3 linked regions of the Homo sapiens genome follow. The protein of the gene in region 3 purifies or fractionates together with the protein of the main gene of each other region. This does not show direct contact. Each region holds a gene or a part of one and is shown on either strand. Other genes may lie near its edges. The genes, in order: PPP1R7, ODR4 and UBXN4.

What was found.
Region 1: the proteins of UBXN4 (region 3) and PPP1R7 purify together in Homo sapiens (affinity purification with western blotting, with the first as the bait; one study listed by BioGRID). This does not show direct contact.
Region 2: the proteins of UBXN4 (region 3) and ODR4 purify together in Homo sapiens (affinity purification with mass spectrometry, with the first as the bait; one large-scale study listed by BioGRID). This does not show direct contact.

The regions. Positions count from the first base shown.
Region 1 is NC_000002.12:241,156,948-241,160,600, reverse strand, and holds part of PPP1R7 (protein phosphatase 1 regulatory subunit 7), read right to left. Parts: intron 2,795-3,653; coding exon 2,739-2,794; intron 2,118-2,738; coding exon 2,052-2,117; intron 1,389-2,051; coding exon 1,258-1,388; intron 270-1,257; coding exon 107-269; intron 1-106. UniProt on the Homo sapiens protein: Regulatory subunit of protein phosphatase 1.
Region 2 is NC_000001.11:186,392,783-186,396,435, reverse strand, and holds part of ODR4 (protein odr-4 homolog), read right to left. Parts: intron 2,490-3,653; coding exon 2,421-2,489; intron 1-2,420. UniProt on the Homo sapiens protein: May play a role in the trafficking of a subset of G-protein coupled receptors.
Region 3 is NC_000002.12:135,744,851-135,748,503, reverse strand, and holds part of UBXN4 (UBX domain-containing protein 4), read right to left. Parts: intron 238-3,653; coding exon 135-237; intron 1-134. UniProt on the Homo sapiens protein: Involved in endoplasmic reticulum-associated protein degradation (ERAD). Acts as a platform to recruit both UBQLN1 and VCP to the ER during ERAD.

The sequences.
Region 1 (3,653 bases), about 110 Mb from region 3:
TAAGAAATGCAGACTCACCATGCATTCTACATACACCCACTGAGTCCACACACAGCCCGCTAGCTGCCTCTCCCTGAATATACTAGTCAGGGCTGTCTGCACCTACCCGGATGCGGTTAGATCCCAGCTCTAGCATCTGTAGTTGATGTAAGTTGCTTAAGTTCTCAATTTTACTGATTTTATTGTTGACCAAGAAGAGTTTTTTCAGTCGTGTCAACTTGTCAACCCCTTCGATGTTTCTCAGCAGATTAAAAGAAATATCTAGAATCCTGAGAACAACCAAAACAGTTTTTTAAAAAAATTTCACGAGCATAGGTTGCATAGAACTCACAATTTAACCACTAAAGGTGGCGTCCCCATCAGGGGACGGCAGTCACTACCGGGTGGGAGAGGGTGGGGGGTTCTGACTGTGCCCCTGCTGCCGCCTGGCTCACACTGATGCTGTCATGAGGGATTTGGAGGCTGCCCAGGAGCCCGGAGCAAGCCAGAGGCAGCCTACAGGCTCCTGATGCCCTGGCTCCCAGTATGGTATTTGAGGCAGAAACTATGTTTTGTTCACACTTGTGCCCATGACAGGACCTCACACCAGGCTCTGCACACAGAAGGGGCCTGAGAAGTATTGAATTAGAAACAGAAACAAAACAAGCAAAAATGAATGAGCGACAAAGGGCAGAAATCCAGGTAAAGTTATAACTAGGACCTGGCTCCTTCTTTTTTAATTTTAATTTTAATTTTTGTAGACAGGGTCTTGTTATGTTGCCCAGGCTATCTCGAACTTCTAGGCTCAAGTGATCCTCCCAATTTGGCCTCCCAAAGCACTGAGATTACAGGTATGCACCACTGCACCTGGCCTAGGACCTGACTCCTTAAATTAGAAATGTCACTTTTTTTTGTAATTAAAAAAAAGAGTATTCAAAAGGCAAGAGGCAATTCTGGATTAACTTTCCTCTCTACCGATCTCAGTATCATCCCTGAATGGAGGCTTTCCAGAAGTCCCCACTGCAGCCTTCCCATCAAAGATTTACTTTGGAAGTCAGGATTGTTCAGGAAGCCAAAGACATGCATGAAGCCGATGAGGCCTCCTGGAGCCCTGAAAACAGGAGGCAGAGACTTGGGATTCAGATGCAGGGCAGGACCCTGTGGCAGAGGCAGCCTCTCAAGGGCTAAGAGCCAGCAGGAGGTTGGCTCTGGAGACTGGACACCCCCCACCCAGTGGCCTTCCCACCATGCTGTTCTCCTGTGGGTCTCATGACTCACTCCAGCTCTGTTAGCGCCTCCAGATTCTCAATCTTCTTGATCTGGTTGTCGTAAAGATCCAGCTCTCGAAGACTCTGTAGCTCCTCCAGATTCTCAATGCATTTAATTAAATTTTGGCGGAGGCAGAGAGTCTGGGGGATGGGAAAAGGGACAATTGACACAGGCAAGGGGGAGGCCACGAGAAGGCCTCAGCTGATACTGGAGGACACAAGAAAGGCCTTTCTGGTAGAAGGACATGTCTTCATTCTCCTGCTGTTTCCTAGAAAGGTGCTGACCTTTGAGAGGCAGGTGGGCAAGGGCACTAAGCTATAATTCCTTAACACACCTGAGGAAGGGCGGGAACCCAAAGGGAGGCAGGAGGCAGGCTCCCCACCAAGCAGGCCAGTTGGGGAGGGAGGCGTTGGCCTGGGGTGTGGGTGTCTGCCACTTCCTGGCAGAACATAAGAACCTTTGGTGGGCTCAATTTTGACAAATTCCAATGAGAGGCACGGAGGACTGTAAAAGTCAGCGAGTGCCTAATTGAACACAGGCACAGAAACCGAGGCAGGCCAGAGTCACAGGTCACTGGCTGCCTGGGCTCAGGAGAGCCAGCCCCAGGGCTGTGCCTCAAGTCCCTCGACTGCTGTCTCACACCTGCTGTGCTCCCAGTAAAGAAAGGCCTGCTACAAGGTGGAGGCAGCCACGCCGCCCACAGGCTGGGACAAGGACCACAACTCAGGACTGACTGCTCGATTCTGGACTTATCCACATCCTATGGGTGAGCGTCATAGTCCCCTCATAAGAGTCCCTCTCACCTTCACTTTCTTCAGTACCTCAAATCCTTCAATCTTCCCTATGCGATAGTGATTCAAATCAACATCCTGAAACAAAGCAGAAATCTATACTCAGCTATAGCAAAGTGGCTGGAGACCTGTGTCGTCCTAGAAGAGGCGGCCTGGAAGTGGGCAGCAGTGGGGGAGGCAGTGCCAGGTGGGTCTGCAGCAGACAGATGTCAGTGACAAGGTGTGCTGCGGGGGCTCTTTGGCTTAGTGATGACTAAGTTTTATGTAAAACTGGCCCTTAAAATGATTGGTACATGACATCTTTTTCTCATTCCTTAGATCCTGTATGCACAAAACATAAGCTCAGGTTCTGAGGATATGCACCCCATCCCATCACCATCAGAGACACGCTGTGGGCTCAGGAGGCCCAGTGGCCAGTCATACACAGCCTGGGGCCATTGGGACCCTCATGTATAATGTAATCATCAGACCCAGACAATGTATGAGTCAAAGGCATCTCATCTGCCACACAATCCTCAAGGGTCGAATAGACATGGGGATAACAATCACTGGTAAGAAAAACATGAACACGGGACTCTGACTCAACCAAGGGAGGCTTAGGCCACCTCTCTAGGGAAATAACTTACTAATCTCATACAAGATAACCTGACAGGGTGGTCCATCACCACGCCCAAGGCTGGGCTGAGCAGGCGGCATTACCTCTGCATCTCTGTCCAGGTTGATGGTTTCCATGTCCACAGGCAGCTCATGTTCTTCTGAAAAAATAAGAAAAAGAGATTTGTTCAGAACCCCATTAACAGGAGGCACTGGTGAAGAGCTGCTTCTGGCTGAGGTCTGGGGCTGTTTGGTGCCCAGAGCCAGCTCAAACCCCGAGGAGGAACCAATGGGAAGGTTTGCTGAGGACCTGGAGAATGTGGCAGGGTTAGACCCTGCTCCAACAATAGTGATGTTTTAAGCATTCTGAATTTCCTGAATTCAGATATTGGCAAAGGTCACCAAACATCCATCTGTGCCTTTGAACTTCCTGAGAAAGGAAATGTGTTTTGAACCTGTTAGTGGGAAGGAGGGGAGGAAGTAGCTGAGTGCAGGTGAGCAGGGTAGCACTACTGCCTTTCCGTGACTCCCAGAGCTGCAGAACTGGCAGCAGCCTGCCTCCCATGTAGCTTTTCTCTTTTTGTTTGTGGCAATAAACCAGGCCATTAGAATCTAGACCATGCTGGGCACATCAGATGCTCTAGGATGGGCCTTTTATTGCTTTGGAAGGTGGCCCAGCATCTACAAACACTTCCCTCTGCAAAGAGCAAAACAAAACAAAACATAGTTCAACAGATAGGATCAAAGAAGCTCACTGAATAATTTAAACACACTTCTCAGTGGGGAGACTGGTGAACTCACTCCAGCAGAGAAGCCCATTGGATTTCACGAGGACTCTCTACCCCGGAGCCGGCATCCTCTGTGCGGAGGAGGGAGAGAGCTGCTCTCCCTGCTGAGGCGACAGCTTCCCTGTTAAGCACTTCCTCATTTCATTTCATTGGAACCTACTTCAGCATGTGTGCTGAAAAGGACTAAGACACACACAGATGCACACACACACGCATGCACAAAGACACACAG
Region 2 (3,653 bases), on a different chromosome or scaffold from region 3:
GGGTTTCACTTGTTGCTCAGACTCATCTTGAACTCCTAGGCTCAAGCGATCACCCTGCCTAGGCCTCCCAAAGTGCTGGGATTACAGGCATGAGCTACCATGCTCAGCCAGGAAAAGTTTTAAAGAATGTAAGGTCTGACTCATTCCTTTTAGGTGGAAATGTAGACCAGTTGGGGTCTACAAATGTAAACTCCTCTTGGTTATTTGGACTTAGGAATAACCTGGCTGCCAAACAGCCTATAGGTGAGGGAACTTCTATGATGCTGACATGGCATTTGAAAAAGAGAAGATCCCCATTTCTATGGGAACCAAATGAAATCTTACACAAGTAGTGGCATTTGGGCTAGATCTTAATGTACAGATAGGATTTTGACAGTTTGGGTGACAGAGAAAAGAGCAAAGACATGATACATAGTTCAGGAAATACAGAGCTTTAAAGGTATGGCAAGCATACATCTAGAAAATAAGAGGTAGAAAATAAGAACAAAAAGGTATGCTGAGGCTATGAAGAACCCTGAGTTGGACTTCTCTAACTAGTCAGTACAGAACACTTAAGAAATTTTGAGCAAGGAGTACCATAATCAGTGTCCGGCTGTTGTACAAACTCAATAAATACTTCTTGAAAAAAATTAATAACTGAACATAAACTATGATTCAGAAATGATCATCTGAGTGTATAAACAGGATAGAGTAGATAAATGGAAAGTATTTCAAGAGATATACTAACAAAGGTAGAAGGGATTTAGAGAAACAATCACTTTGGACAAGAATGTATAGATGAAGAGAGACCAGTTAAGGGCTACTTGTGCTAGTTTAGGTAAAATAATACTGTTGTAAGGCTAATGACAGCAGGACTGTATGGAAAATAAAAGAAAAGCTTAATACTACAAATAAGGAATCAATAAGACTTAACTGGGAGAAAAGTGGCAATAAATACTTACTGACTACTTACTGTATATTAGTCACTTCAAAATTTCCAGTTAGGTGATCGGTGGAGTGACTACCAAAAATATATTATACTATATAATATTATTACTACACCTGGCCAGGCGCGGTGGCTCACGCCTGTAATCCCAGCACTTTGGGAGGCCGAGGCAGGCGGATCATATGGTCAGGAGATTGAGACCACCCTGGCTAACACAGTGAAACCCGTCTCTACTAAAAATACAAAAAATTAGCCAGGTGTGGTGGCAGGCGCCTGTAGTCCCAGCTACTCAGGAGGCTGAGGCAGGAGAATGGCGTGAACCCAGGAGGCAGAGCTTGCAGTGAGCCGAGATCGCACCACTGCACTCCAGCCTGGGAGACAGAGCGAGACTCCGTCTCAAAAATAACAATAATATTACTACTACAATAAATTATCTCATGAGATTATCTTCCACTCATCTCTCTATATTCCCACACTCTATACATCTCCCAACTACAATTTTATACTACTAATAAAATAATCTTAACCAAATTGTTTAATAAACCATGAAGTAAGCCTAACTAGTGAAAAGCACATAAGTAGTGGAATAGCCAGCCTCAAAACAAAGGACACTTCTAAAATCAAGACAAAGTAGAAAATCAGAGACTAAAATACCTCTAAGGTATTGAAAAATGAAATTGAGAACTCACATTGAGTGGCATAGGCCCAAAGACAATTTACTAATGCGCTATTGCTACACACAGAAAAAGAAGAAACTAAAACATCCTCAAATGCCAAATTGCTTTTAATTCTATTCTATTCAGTTCAAAAAAACACAAGTCCTGAGAGTATTTCTGTTTCAAAATCCAGTATAATATTGAAATAAAGTTTCCTACAAACACGCGTTTGCTATTTTATACCCTTGTCTGTTCTTTAGGATAATTTCAAGTAGGATTAAAATCAAAGGTATGTATTTTTAGGAATAATTAGTGGCTTTAACTTTTTATTCTTTAAGATATCCAACTTTTAAATTTTCGAAAAGACGTGTAAATTAAAGCAACCATACATAAATATAAAACTTGCTAATTAATACTTTGTGATTTTTATCAAATCAGGGGGTATAAATCTAATTAATCTACTTCAAAATAAGCATATGACAACTCTTTGCACCTCTGTGTACACATCTTTTAAGTTGTTAAAATTGCAACTTTAACTATAAAAGCTACAACCCAAAATATGTACACATACATACATGTATATGTATGCATGTATGTGTACATATTTTTTTAAACTGCTATCTATTGATGTTAAAATTTTAATATCCTTGAGGCAAAAAACCCAAACAGGTTTTATTAAAATGATGTTTCTTGGGAATAACCTTCCTATAACCAGCCATTTCATACAGTCTCTTACAGCTCTAAAATCCTTTTATTCTCTAATGAGAAAAATAAAAACAGAAACAGTTTCATTATGGTTATGCTAATAAATATTTTAAGTGTTATTTTAAAATATTTACCAACTGCGTTAGCACTCTGACATCAAAAGAATGACTAGTTGCTTGAGTATTTCCTCTAGAAGATTTTTTCTGAAAAAACACAAAAGTTAAAAAGCCAAACTGTGAAGCCTGTAAAACATAAAAGACAACTTATAAACTATTGTACATATACTAAGTAACTTAGAAAAAAACAAGTCTTTTAATTATTTTAATTTAGCTTTTTATATAGATATTACTTTATGTATTCTGTATCAATGTACACTCTTTAAAACAATTAATTCCATACTTTCATTCCTCTAAAGCAACAACTGGCAAACCACTGCCTGTGGGCAAATACCCACATTGCCACTCATCTTTGTAAATAAAGTTTTACCGGTATGCAACCAGGATCATTCACTTATGTATCTCCTGTAGCTGCTTTCATGCTACACAGTAGAGATAAAAATACAGCCTGTGAAATCTAAATATGTAGTATTTTTCTCTTCACATAAAGTTTGCTGATCCCTGCTTTAAAAAGTGAGAGATCACAAAAGTTCCGCTTCCTTCAGGTCAAAGCTATTTTAGAAGCCTCTATAAACCTCTTTTATAAAATGGCCATAGCTTTTGAACTGTCATCAGGGCAGAACAACATGTGGCCTTTGGTTGCAGGTCAGCAGTTTACAATTTGGAAATCAGATGAAATTCAGATGACACTCCTGTAAAGTTTCAGGATTCCAATTACATCATTTTCTTTTTTTTCCTGGACTTATTTTTTAACTTTTAAGTTCATGAGTACATGTGCAGATTTGTTACACAGATAAACTTCAGTCATGGGGGTTTGATATACGGATTATTTCATCACCCAGGTATTAAACCTAGTACCCATTATTTATTTTTCCTGATCCTCTCCTTCTCCCTCCTTTTAGTGTGTGTTTTTCCCCTCTATGTGTCCATGTGTTTTCATCATTTGGCTCCCACTTATAAGTCAGAACATACGGTATTTGGTTTTCTGTTCCTCTGTTAGTTTTCTTCTTTTCCTTTTCTTTTATTTTGAAATGGAGTCTTACTCTGTAGCCAAAGGCTGGAGTGCAGTGGCACGATCTCGGCTCAATGCAACCTCCACCTCCCAGGTTCAAGCCATTCTTCTGCCTCAGCACCCCGAGTAGCTTGTGCTTACAGGCACCTGCCACCACACCCGGCTAATTTTTGTTATTTTTAGTAGAGACAGGGTTTCACCATGCTGACCAGGCTGGTCTTGAACTCCTGACCTCAAGT
Region 3 (3,653 bases):
CCCACCTCAGTCTCCCAAAGTGCTGGGAGTGCCCAGCCCAACATCAACATTCTTCTAGTCCAAGAGTATCACTATAAATCAAAGACAATACTTATAAATTTTAAAATTAATAAAATATTAAAACATAAACAAACCTTTTGGTATCGATTTTAATAGCAACAAAACTGTTTGAAGATGCTTCTGTAACTTTATCATCTTCCCAACTTGCAGCCATCTGTGTAGACTGTTCATCATCACCTGTAAAACATTTCAAAAATTCTTATACCAGGCTGGGATCTGCTGATTGCAAACTCTTTTCCCCTGGAAAACGGAAACCTCAAATAAAATATAATCCCACCTATACCACTTTCTGCCAAATTTGAAAACTGAATTTTCCACTAAATGAAAAGTGTGACTGCATACACAGTTCACATCATGAAGAGCAATGAAAACAAACTACACTGGACTATTTAAATGATACAAAATATTTCATAAAAGAAGCCATCTAAATTATGATGCGCAAAGTACCACAATAATAAGCAGTCATCGGTGCAGTGCCTATTTGGGCTTTTGTACATAAGATTTTATTAAAATAAAAGTTGTGGGCTGGGCTCGGTGGCTCACGCCTATAATCTCAGCACTTTGGGAGGCTGAGGCGGGTAGATCACCTGAGGCCAGGAATTCGAGACCAGACTGGCCAACACGGTAAAACCCCATCTCTACTTAGCCAGGTGTGGTGGCGCATGCCTGTAATCCCACCTACATAGGAGGCTGAGGCAGGAGAATTGCTTGCACTCGGAAGGTGGAAGTTGCAGTGAGCGGAGATTGCACCACTGCACTCCAGCCTGGGTGACACAGTGAGACCGTCTAGAGAGAGAGAAAAATAAAAAGTTTGATATCTGTCCTTTATGTGGCACCTTTCTGTTGAGTTCAACATCTCCACTCCACAGCATTTATACTCCAAAATTAATCCAAGGTAGACAGAGGCAGGTACAATTCTGTTTGCAATTTTAGACTTGCCTTTTATTGTAGGTATGCTAATTATAAAAGGTATGCTAACCTATAACTAATCTATGGTGATAGAATTCAGTATAGTGGCTACCTTGATAGAGCATGAAGGAGCCTTCTGGAATGCTGAAAACGTTCTGTATCTTTTTTTTTTTTTTTTTTTTTTTTGAGATGGAGTTTCACTCTTGTCGCTCAGGTTGTAGTGCAATGGTGCAATCTTGGCTCATTGCAATCTCTGCCTCCCGGGTTCAAGCGATTCTCCTGCCTCAGCCTCCTGAGCAGCTGGAATTACAGGTGCCCGCCACCACGCCCAGCTAATTTTTTTGTATTTTTAGTAGAGATGGGGTTTCACTATGTTGGCCAGGACAATTTAATCCACTTTGGCCTTCCTCATTGCAGTTATTCGTTTATGGTAACTCCATCCTTCCAGTTCTCAGGCCAAAAAACTAGTTTTCCTTGATTGTAACTGACTCCAGCTCCAAAATAAATCAAGAATGTAACTTTCTTACCACTTCCACTACTAACTACCCTGATCCAAGCTATCACATCTCACCTGGAAGCCTAGTAAAAGCCTCCAAATTGGTCTTCCTGCTAAGTCTATTCTTAACACAGCAACTTTCTCTAAAAAAAAAAAGATCACATCAACCCTCTGCTTAGATCACACAATGGCTCCCCATTTTCCTCAAAGTAAAAGCCAAAGTCCTTACAGGGCGCTTGAAGGCCCCATACATCAGGACTCCAACTACCTCTGTGACCTCATTCCTTTTTCCTTTCTTGCTATTCTTTTTCCTTCTATTCCTCAAATATGAAAGACACTTCAGCCATAAGGTCTTTGTACTAGTTGTTTCCTCTGCCTGGAATGTTCTTCCCCCAGATAACTACATGGTTAACTTCCAACTCCCTTAAAACTTTGCTCAAATATCAGCTCAATAAAGCTGATACTTAATCACCCACTTTAATATTACAACTCTCCTACTCACTTACTTTAAAATTACACTCTTGAGACATTCCCAAAGCTCCCTTATCTCCTGTTGTTTTTCTGTATTACTTTCACCTTCCAATATACTATGCATTTTTAATTATGTTTACTAGTATCTGTCTCCCCTAACTAGAATGAAGGTTCCATGAAGGCAAGGATTGGTTCCATTTTATTTACTGACAAGACTAAAATCTCTACAAAACATAGTAGGCACCCAATAAGTACTCTGTGGAATAGCTAAATGCCTAATATAGTAAGTATGATGGCATGCCTATAATAATTGACTCTAATGCTGTTTATTTGCATATATTTTGTGAGATGAGATTCAGGAATACCAGAAATAGGAGTTTGAGAAATTTGACCATGGAAAAGTAAACGGGGTCGGGCACGGTGGCTCACTTTGTGAGGCTTAGGCGGACGGATCACGAGGTCAAGAGATCTAGATCATCCCGGCCAACACGGTGAAACCCCGTCTCTACTAAAAATACAAAAATTAGCTGTGCGTGGTGACACACACCTGTAGTCCCAGCTACTCAGGAGGCTGAGGCAGGAGAATCGCTTGAACCAGGGAAGTGGAGGTTGTAGTGAGCCGAGATTGCACCACTGTACTCCAGCCTGGCGGCAGAGTGAGACTCCATCTCAAAAAAAAAAAAAAAAAAAAAGTAAACGGGACTAGAATGCATCCACAGACCAAATGCTCCATTAAGAATGCTCCATTAGCAGACTCCTAGATGTTGAAGATGCAAAATAACGAGAAGTTACTATTTGCAAGTGAGATCACTCTAAATGCATCTTCAGAAACCATCTGATGAGGAGAGATTAAGATTCCAAATAAATGACTCACCTACCAAAGAAAAATAAGTATATGAGAATATTCTTACTACGAACCCTTCTCAGAGAAGGCTGTGAAGAATGAGAAATCCTTTCCATTCATTCTTTTATATGTTCACTATTTTATTGCATTTATTTTGTTCTAGGCATTGAACTGTATACTAAATATAAACCAAATGAGACATTGTCTGCCTTCAACAGAGCTTAAAATCTAATGGTATACAAAATTTTTAAACAAATAGACACTATACGTAATTACAGTAATAAATGCTACTAAAAAGAAATCTATGAGAGAAAATAACAAGAGAACTCTTTATAATGGTCAGAGAAGCCCTCTCTGAGGTGACAGTTAAGCTAAAATCTAAAGGATAAGAGAGCTCAGCCATGCCAACAGCCAGAAGAGTTCACCACGCAGAAGGAATACGTGTGTAGGGAAAGGCCTATGTGATTTGGAATGTTGTGAACAATCCGGAGCTCAAGAAGAGACTGAAGAGTTAAGAGTCAAAGATGACTCTCATATTTATGGTTTATCCAACCAGATGTATGGTAGTGCCAATCAGATGCAGAACACTGGGAGAAACACAGGTTTAGGCAGCACTTACACGTTTAGGCTTGAGAATCCTGGGAGGATCTAAACAGTGATATCACGTAAGTAGCTGAAAGTATAAATCTTGCTTCTTGTGAGGCTGGTGCATCACTCCCTCACCTATACTGTACCATGTGATTAGGGTCCCAGATGTCTCAACCCTACTGGCAGTGTCTGTCCTAGACTCAGCCTAGTGGTGGCAGCAGCTGCTTGAACAGCAGTGGTGGAAAGCTGAATGGAATTACTCAATGCTTAATGACAACTTTCCTA